Linked DNA regions of Homo sapiens: region 2 is linked to region 1. A link means that fine-mapping ties the variant in region 1 to the expression of a gene that starts in the linked region. Tissue or cell type: whole blood. Region 1 holds a variant in brackets; the other region holds the start of a gene. All regions are shown on one strand. Distances are between the middles of the regions.

Region 1 (5,151 bases):
GTGACGTTGGGCAAATCACTTAACCTTGTCTCTCCTATCTCAGTATTCAGAGTGGGAATCATAGTATGGTACCACCACATTGGGAGGTTATGTGGATTAAGTAATCATTTTAAACTGCTTTTGAACAAAGCATTAGCCTAAGAATTGTAGGACTGTTTTTTAAAAGTCCACCAGATGCGTCAAGTTTCCACCAGTTGTCTGATGTGCAATCTTTGTAGGATGCATGGGAGCTGGGAAATTAGAAATGAAGCTAGCTAGCATCAAAAACTACCCATAGCGGCAAAAGCCCTGCCGGGGCGTGAACGTGCACTGTACCAGCTACCACTGCCCTGGTTTTCAGGCTCTGTGCTCCGGGATCAGGCCTTCTTTGGGTTCTAACTCAACCTCAGCTAAAGCTGAGCTTCCTGTTCAAAAAAGCACATTTCCATGCCTCTGACTCCACTTCAGCTGGCTAACTCTCTCACCATAGCCTTCTGTCTTCTTATTCTTGTCATATTGTTTTTGCCGCCCAACATGTGTACTTGAAAAACCTCAAAAGCATTGCCGTTGTGACTTTGTAGATCGCATTGGATGAAACAAGTCAGAACTGTTAGAATAGAGGTAGTGGGATTTGTGTAAAGATTCATCCTCTGAATTTGTATTGTGAAAAGCATTGAGTCCGAATGTTTTTAACCACCTGCTCTTGGTGTGCTGGCCAAACTGAACTCGAGCCATGGATTATTTTGATTGATTTCTACAAAGATTAACTGTTCAGAGACTCTAAAGAGACCACTGAGAATTCACCTAGTTGGTGATTGTAGACAAAGTATAGCTTGCATCGCCATTTTTCATTTTCATGGATGGAAATTATGGCCTGTATGCCGAAAAAGGACAGCAAAGACATTTAAAATGTGAGTGTGCAAAGTGTACATCATGTGAACCATGGGCTCCAATTTATAAAATTATTTTACTTCTGAGGACTCTTTGTCTTTTCTGTGTCCTCTTAACGGATGCTAGGAAGTGAAACCTTTCAGCTCAGTTGTCCCATGTGCCGCAGGATGCTGGCACAGATGTAGAAGAGTGAACATCTTTCATGTACCTGATTTCATTTTCAGAACTGAGCCTCGGATCCCTTTAAGAGCAGACTAAATGTGATCAGGAGCTCCCTGCTCTTAGAGTCAGAGAGAAAAAGAATGAGCAGGTCCTTCACTGACACACAGAGTATTTCTCCAGCATGCCCCACAGCCTCTGCAGCCTCTGTAAGCCATGCAGGATGGATCTGAGAATCAGCAAGATGACTGTGCTGGGATCTCTGAATTATCTCAGAGGCACAATAAGAGGGTTACACGCCTTGTAAAAACATTCCTTGGCCTAACACTATAGTAGCCCAATTTCCAGCCCTTCTCCAGAAGCTCTGGGCACACACAGAGGCAGCACCTAGAGCAAGGTCATGTGTGGCTTGCCAAAACAGCCCCGGACCAGCATCTGTGGCCTCATCTCAGAATCTCAGGCCCCACCCTAGGCCTGCTTAACTGAATCTGCATTTTAATAAGATCCCCAGGTTGTTCTTAGTCACCTTGCAGTTTGAAAAGTGCTGCTCTCCCACACTGGTTTTCAAACTTGGCTACACGTAGGAATTGCTTGGGGAGTTAACAACGAAGCAACCTGTGGCTGGGTCGCACACCTAGGGATTCTGATTTCATTGGCATCAGGTGCATCCTGGCCATTAGATGACGCTAATGAGTAGCGAAGTTTGAGAACTGCTGTCCTGTGCCATATTATGTCACCCTGGCTTGCTGCCGTATGTCTTGTGATACCGTGATACAAGTGTAAGTTTGAAGAATTTGTTTTAGTACCTTCTCACATCCCTATTGCTACATCCTCTCTTCTACTACTGCAGTCTCCCAAGCAGCCTTCCTTGCTCCTATTTTTGATTCCAGCTAGTTGTCAGATGTTCTTCCTAAGGGATAATTTCTAATCATGAGTTAACTCCCTGCTGTGGGTCCTTAGAAGAGTGTTGAGGGGAAAAGGAAATCACCTTTTGCAGTGACAGTGACCTGAAATGGAGAAGAGGAAGGGGAAGAAAGAGTGCTTGCCAAGAGTTGTCAGAGAACAGCCTCCCTCCAGAACGACAGACCATCCTTGCTACCTGCAATCATTACCCCAGCCTCCCCCACAGCTCCACCTCCATCCTTCTTTCCAGGAAAGAATAATAAAAACTTGGAACTCAGCCTCTAAAATCTTGCCCACTGCTGCAAACAGTCAGTCTAATACTAAATATATATTTTTAAAGACCTGTTCTGTGCTAGCACTGTGTTGATAAATACCGTGAGGGTACCCCAAGAGAATCGGCTTCCCCTGACTATGCTAGATTATTACTAGATTTTTGTCAAGACAAGCGTCTCAGACTTCAAGGGATTTTATTTAATTTGTGGCTTGAGGAATTTTTCACATAAGAATGCAAGTGCTTTATCAGAAAAAAAAAACCCAAGCCAGTTTTATATTTCAAAATCTATACAAAAAAGTTAAGAAAAC[A/C]AAATATTTTCAAATAAGCAATTTTTAAAGATAGAATTGAAGTAACAGTGGAATTTATGAATAAACTCTTTTATTATGTTTATAAAAACGTGGATTCATTTTGCCATATGGTTTTTGAACTCACACTTCTGGAATTCAACAAAAGTTCTGAATTTATTTTTCTTTTTTTGAGATGGAGTCTTGCTGTGTTGTCCAAGCTGGAGTACAATGGCTGTTCGCCAGTACAACCATAGTGCACTGCAGCCTCAAACCCTGAGGCTCAAGGGATCCTGCTGCCTCAGCCTCCTGAGTAGCTGGTGTTATAGGCGCATGCCACTGCTCCCAGCCTTGGATTTTTAAAATCCAGTATTTCTTTGTAAATAAAGTGATGTTTAACTCAATTTTTAAAGTAAAATCTTGAAACAAGGTTCTCATAGTATATGGTCATGTATTCTCTTAAGTTTTAGACAGATCCTGTTCGGTATTAAGGAGCTTTGATAACTTTTTAGTGGTTTCTGATGTGCTGTTCTGATAAGCACAGTGTTTAGTAAGTAAAGAACCTGAAGACACACAGCCAGGGGCATAGACCATGTAAAGATTCAGCAAGTACCGACTGTTGGCCTACTGGGTGCCAGGTGCTGTTCTGGACCTGTGTGGGCTATAGGGAGGACCAAAAGATGTTTTTATTTTCATGTGATGATGCTTAGTCTTGCACATTGCACATTGGGCTGCATAGATCAGAGAACCATTCAAGCCACCTCCAAAAAAAGCAGTATAGGTGTGTGGACCACTTCATTAGCTTAATGTGCAAGTACAATCTCATCTTTTTATTACTGTGATTCATCTCTTCAGTATCCCTATGCCCTGGTATATATAGGCATAGGGGTAACAGCAAATCCAGGATCTTTTTCTCAAATCTTTAATTCCTGGTGTGTTCAGTGCTGAGTGGAAGTGAGAAATCTCGCATACCTCAATGTACTATCAGTTCATATGCACTGCTTCCTGGCCACTTCCATGAGATACTGCTGTCCAAGACCAGTTCTGCTGTTGGGTCACCTGTGCTGTTGGGGGAAGCTTGTGCTTGCTTATCCCTTGCTGGTGCTTCTACTATGTTTCTTACTGACCTCCAAGGTTGTAACTCTTTGAGTTGATGCTTTGTGCTCCGAAAGGGTGTCTGGGTCCCAAGAGGCTTCTGAGCCCCAGCCACGAGCTAAGCTGGAGGTGCCCTAGGCCAGGAACAATGAACACCTGCTCACTTTACATTTGTGTAACTCAGAGTGGGTTTTTTTCCAAACAAAGACCATCTGGTTCTAAGTTTACTTTCTGTCTCTCCCTGGTCAGGGAATAGCAAGGCCACCCTGCCCAGGCCAGCTCGGACAGTACAAGAGGGTGCTGGATGGAGCAGGTGCTGGTGGGCTCAGGTCCAGCCTGCGCTTTGCCCAGGTCAAGCTGTGTACCTGGTGTGGACATGTGTGCCTTCCTTCTCCCCCAGGGAGAGCACCCTTTTCTTTGCACAAAAGCCATGGGCTTCTCATCTACCCAGGAGCCTGACCGCCGGTCAGGCTTCATTCCAGAAGGGGCATCTCCTATCTGATTCTTACCAAGTTACCATAGCAGCTGATGACAGTCCTGTATCAGAGCTTGGCACATTTGAAAAATTGGCTTCACCTGTTAAGTCAGGAGGTCCTTATTAGGTCAGATTGCACCTGACCTGGGGCTGACACCAGAGAGTTGTCAGGAATTGAGGCAACCAATTCCTCTTTCTCTAGCCCTTTCCTAGGCTGGCATGGTTTCAGCAGGCTTGAGCTTCTGTTTGTCTCTCTGTTGACCAGCTTTCTTATTCTCTAATCAAAACAGATTATCTCTCCTTCATAGGTGTTTCCTCATCCATCTGCTTAAAATGGCACATCAGGGGTCCTACCTACCTGACAGCAATCTTCCTCTGTTTCCTTTTAGCTCTTGCCTTGTGTTTACCTGGGGAAAATTTCTTCATATTTCATAGTTCAAATTCTCTAGAAAAGACCTATTGTGTGAAGCCACCTTTATACAGCAAGACAGAGATCATATGCCCCATAGGTGCCTCTGGATTTGTTGCCTTTGATCAGATACTCACTGGAGCCGAAACCAGTTGTGGAGCATGAAGTCACAGTGCCAACATGGCCATGTAGAAGGGACTGAGCCTGGCCAGTTTCCATTCGTCCATTCATTCAATTAGTCTTTATTGATTACTGCTATGTGCCAGGTACTGTTCCAGGCACTGGGCATACAAAGGTGAGCAGATGTGATTCTGTGATTCTGGAGTTAGACTGAAAGCAGAGAGGATACTCAGAAAGGGTGTGGCAGGCCAGACACAGCAGTGTCTCTGGTGATCTAAGCTATAGGCCTTGCATCATGCTCAGTAAATAACATGATGATGATGATGACTGTTCTTGTTTTCAGAGGATGCATGAAGAGCTAATTTACTTAAACTAGTTAAGCTCTAGTTTGTGTCAGTACCTCAGTGGCAGCTCTGAGACAGATATTAAAGCCGTGGATTTATTCTGGCCCCTACGTACTGATGAAGATGCTGTAGGCAAGGGCATATCTTGATTTTTCATTTCTTCTTTCAATCAACAAATGGCTAGTGAGCTAACACAAAGGTTGCAAAGACATCCCTCA
Region 2 (5,151 bases), 140 kb after region 1:
AGTTCTTTCAGAGCTTGAAAAATATTTAGAGTGTTCCATGGAAAAAATCAGTAGATGCCATTAGTCTATATTTTTAGGAAGGCTAAATAGAAGCTATTCCTCAAACTCAGCCATGGTATGATATGATGCGGCATTATTATAACAGAGAAAAGTAGCGGTGTGCTGAAGGCAGTTCACACAGGCTGGTGGGCCAAATTGTTACATTTCAAGGAATTTTGCAAGCTGTTTGATATCAGTTTTGCTAGCTGGTTGAAGGCCTGTAGAATAGGTTATTGTAGGAGTATTTACATCACAGTAAACAAAGCAGTCTGAGGCCCCCTCCTGCCTCCTCACCCCCAGCCCAAACCAGTTAAGCATTTACCAAGATATCACTGGATAAGAGATTGGTTTAGAAATAGAGAACAAAGGGTGGGACCAATGGGATAAATGCTGAAGAATTATAAATAGATAGCTTCCTCAGAGTTAGGTATTGGGTCTAATCCTGTTTAGCATTTTAATAAATTCCCTAGAGAGAGGTAGTATACAGAGAAATGTCCATGCCTTTCAGATGACATTAAATGTTTCCAGAGTTAAACTATAAACCCATGGGATTAACACCCAGAACTCTTAGTAAAACTGTGTGAGTTCTAATAAGGCAAGAGTAAGGCAATTTGGGGGAAAATTATCTTAAAATTCTCTTGTTAGGTGATAATATCTAACCTTTGCGTTACAACCTAGAAATGAAATTTAGAGATTTCTGTAGACGTTTTCTATGTTCATTAGTATAACTTGTTAGCTGTGATAAAAAGGCCACTTAAATGCCAAGTTCCATCAGAAGCTCTAGAAACCAAGAACAAGAACTGTCCCACTCTTAGAAAGAAAACTTAGTGCACACTTCCTGCAGTTTTGGTTGACATGCTTCAAGGATAATGTAATGGAACTGGAAGAGTTTCAGAGAAAATTGCATAACCTGGTTAGGGTATTATAGGAATCCCAGATGAGGCTGAAGATTATATTAACTAGCAAATCATGAAAGGTCTTGAATAAGGTAAATATAGCTGTATTAAGCAATTCCTGAAAAACTGGAACTATAGTGCACCTCCTTGATCTTTGAAATAAGAATTTATAGAAGTAATAGAAATATGCTATTGTTTCTCAAGGAAAAGAAGAAATGATAGCAACCTTAAAGTTTAACTTTTATCAGTATTTAAAAATTATTACAGTTACATATTTTGAATGTGCAAAAGGTACTGTATATTTCCTCTGATCAGTGACCTCCCTTTATCAGAAAGACTGTCAAAAGGAAGAGTGAAACATTCTCCCTCTTAACTTACCTTTAACCACTTTTGTTTGTTTGTTTTTTTCTTACGGCAACTCAAAGCAAAGAGCTGGAGGAGCCAGCCATTATAATTGCTTACTCTCATCGCTTAGCGCCCCAGGTGGGATGTGTTTCCAAAACACATTTTTGTATTTATAAGGAAATGTAGTTAGGATTAATTTTATTGTCCTAATTAGAACTCACATTTTGGTTAAATCCTCAATTTCATTAAAAAAAAAAAAATCAGTGTTTCTTAAGAGTGAATTAGGCAAAGGGAAGAAGACAATGGATCACACTTTTTTAGGGAAAAGATCTTCCTCACAGTGGTGGGTGGGCTATTTGGGTGTGAAAAAACATAGGGCAACTTAATTAACCATGACAAAACAGACAAGTAAGTGCCTTTCAAAAAAATCAAACAAGGCTCTGCACGATCTTAATAATAAAAATTTTAGAAAAAAATGATTTTCATGTTAGTTCAGAGTTGATTGTCTAGGATAAATTAAAAAATGAAAGCTGTGGTAAATGACCTAAATATATTGCACTTTCTGATATTTTTTACATTTTAATGAAATATATGCCTTCAGCAAAGTGCACACATCATTACAGACATCTCAATGAATTTTCATAAAATGAACACATCCAGTAACCACCATCCAATCTAATGCACCATATACAGATGTTCCATATACTGTATATATATATACACACATTATATATATATAGCATGAAGATTACTTATACTAATTAATCATTAACTGTAAATATGAAGAATATTTATTTGTATTCATATTTTTAAGAAGATTGAGATTTAACAGGATATTATAGAAGGGTTTAATTCACCTTTCAAGTTTGTTATAGTTTTTTTCCCCTTTTGTGTATTTTAATCACTTTATTTCACAGTAATTCTTTTGAAATAAAGGAGAGGTCAGCACTCCAGAGTTTTAGGTGGGAGACAGCAAAAAGTATATTTTGTTGATCTCACACGTAGACCTACCATTTAGATTTGTTGTCAAGCCTGATTGAGGCCATTAGTGCCGTTTTTAAAAAATTATATTTGTTAAAAGGAAGATAATTTTTAAAACGAGAAAAAAATGGGCACAAGACATGAGAGTGCCACAATACTGCAAATAGAATGTAAGGAAGGAAATAACTTTTAAGAAACAAATTTTGTTAAATTAAGTACCGTGACTAAATACTTTAATTCCTTTTCTTGTAGCCCGTAAGGATCATTTGACTTTGAACCTTTTAAGTCAAAGAGGAGTAGTCTGAAAGCCTGAACTCCCTACCACCCTGAGGGGGTGCGGGTGCGGCGGGGCCGGCTGGGGGCTTCCCCCACCCCCTGCTCCTGCGCCCTCCCCCCGCTTCCCCCTCCTCCCCTCCCTATCGCCCTCACCCCCCTTCTTCCCCCGTGACCCCTGACCCCAGCTAATCTGCATAGAGGAATGACAGGCATCCGCTGGGCAGGATCCGCCGCGCCGGCTGCGGCCGGCCGGGCTGGGAGACCCGCGCGGGGTAGAAGGTGAGGGGACCCGGCGGGCCGCTCGGCACAGGCCGGGACATGAACGCCTGGAAGTCTGGCTGGGAGCGGACCCATGATCGAAGGACCAAAGGAGCCGCTTGATCGCTGGACCTGGCCCTGCGACCCCAGTCATGGGCCAGACCTCGGTGTCCACGCTGTCCCCGCAGCCCGGCAGCGGTGAGTCCGGGGCGCACGCGATGCGCTCCCGCCGCGCGGGCGCAGGGCTGGCGGCGGGGCCCCGGGGCAGGCAGGGTTAGTCGTCTGGTCGGGTTCCGCTCGGACCCGCCAAGTCCCTCGGAGAAACCCCAGAGGTAGCGCTCGCCAAACTCTTTGTCGTGAAAGAGGAATGCCTTTTGGGATCCAGCCGATTTTACCTTAAAGGCACAGGCTCCATTTTTCTGTGCGCGATGCCTCGCTGTGGTTTTTTATCCAAATTATTTCGGAGCCAGAAACTTACGGGAAACGCCATTTGCGTATTACAGTGTTTTTAAAAACGCGAAACTTAGAGAGCAAGAGAAACATGCCAACAGGTTTTTCTGTATTTACGCTTGGCTTCCGAACAGACTAGGACTGAATGCTTTCAAGCTTGTCAACTGATTTATGGTTTGTTATTCGGAGTAGAAGCGCTGATCGCCTTATCCTGGCAGACGCTGAATACTTAATAACTAGCCCCGAAATGCGTAATTGTTTCAAATGAGACTTGTTTTGTTTATAGTAGATACAGCAGCTATAACATTTAGGGAAACATATCTCATGAACTTAGTTCTCCAGGACTAAAGTTAGTTTTATGGAGACGTGTGTAACGTGTCTGAGTTCTAATGCTCTGTTTTAAAAGTTTCTTTTTTCCATTTTCTTAAACAAAAAGAGGGAAGGAAGGTACGTCTGGCATTTCCCCGACAGTGTAGGGATAAAAAAAAAAAAAACTGTTTGGTGGTGTTACTTGTGATTGGATAAGGAAATAAATTTAAAAGGTACTATTTTGATATTTTTCCATCAACGATTAAAAATAAATAATACTCGAAGGGACCGTTTATGTTACTCATTGAGATATTTGATACACTTTTTAAATTGTGCAAACATCAACAGGATCTTGCTGAAAGGAAATGACAGGGTACAGAGGAAGGTTTTTTAATCTGCCTCAGGATGTCTAGCTAGATAGCATTCTGTCATTCCAACCCCCCACCCCACTTTATACCCAGTGGGTTTCTTTAGGTAGCACAGCTTCACTCCCTGAGATACCACAAGCTTTGCTGAGGTTTCTGTTAATACCACAGAAGACCCTTCTGCAAAGAAGAGACATCAGAATCAGAATATACCTTCTTTACCATTAATGACATGGCTACAGCTCTGAAATCAAAGACCTCATGTTGACAGCTTTTTGAGAGATATTTGCGGGGAGGGGTTGAGTAGGATTTTAAATTTAGTAAACTATTTTGTGCAAATAAGACTTGGTTTCCTTTGTCTTACCTTAAAGTGGTGTGAGACTTCTTTTCATTTCAAGGAAGGGTTATATTTTTACATTTGTGCACCGGCGAAGATAGAATTAAATCTGTACTCCAATACAAGAGTATACAGAAAGTATTGTCCTGAATTTAGTGATTTTATCACAAAATATTACTCGAGTGAATATTAGAAAAGCAAATTTTGCCTTAATAAAAATCAAGGAATATTATATAAATGATGTCTAAGAAGCAAATAAAATCCTAAAGTGAGACTCCCTACGTCTTAGTACAGCAAAAAAACCCGGATTGCTATAATTCCAAATAAAATGACTGATTATAATGAGAAACTGTAATCTACTTAAGTAAAAAGTGTTTTAAACAAAAATTTATGCTTGATCATGAAAGATAATTCAGAGAAATATCTCACGGAACGGTGTTATACTTAAATTGCAGGTCCTCAGTTTTGCGGATTAAAAGTTTGTATGAATTGAAATGACCAATCCATACATCATAAATACAGGGTTTTTTATTTTTCAGTTAAGGAATGACAGTGGTTATGACTTAAGTTGTGGTATTGTAAAAGAACAGTTTTCTCGTGGTATCCAGTGTCTCTAAATCCGTTAGAGCTACCCTGTTTCCCTGAAGGTTTGCCATCAGATTCCAAATGAAAACCAAAAAAAAAAAAATTTAAATTAAATAACGTTTGCTGAGTTTTATATTCATGTCTGTATTTTTCTGAGTCTGAGACTGTCAAACTCTCTACTATTCCAGGTATTTTGTTCACTCCTTGTTAACTGTTTAACTCTGGCTTTACAGATGGCGTGAAGATCCTTGTTCTGTTTGATCTTAGCCATTGACTAGTTGTTTAAGTCTGGAGCAGCTGCTTAGGATTA

The links. PIP is the estimated chance that this variant, and not a neighbour inherited with it, causes the effect.
Region 2: it holds the start of PHACTR2, and the variant in region 1 is fine-mapped to the expression of PHACTR2 in whole blood (TOPMed, PIP 0.96).

The regions. Positions count from the first base shown.
Region 1 is chr6:143,538,250-143,543,400 of GRCh38, forward strand. It overlaps a transcript of PHACTR2 not described here. Among named protein-coding and RNA genes, the nearest start is that of PHACTR2-AS1, 29 kb to the right of the region's middle. RefSeq lists an enhancer at 939-988. The variant A/C (reference allele first, on the strand shown) is at 2,515.
Region 2 is chr6:143,675,217-143,680,367 of GRCh38, forward strand. PHACTR2 (phosphatase and actin regulator 2) reads left to right here and starts at 2,749. Exons shown (of 13, transcript NM_001100164.2): 1 at 2,749-2,993. The coding sequence starts at 2,948. RefSeq lists an enhancer at 2,093-2,941 and a silencer at 2,691-2,990.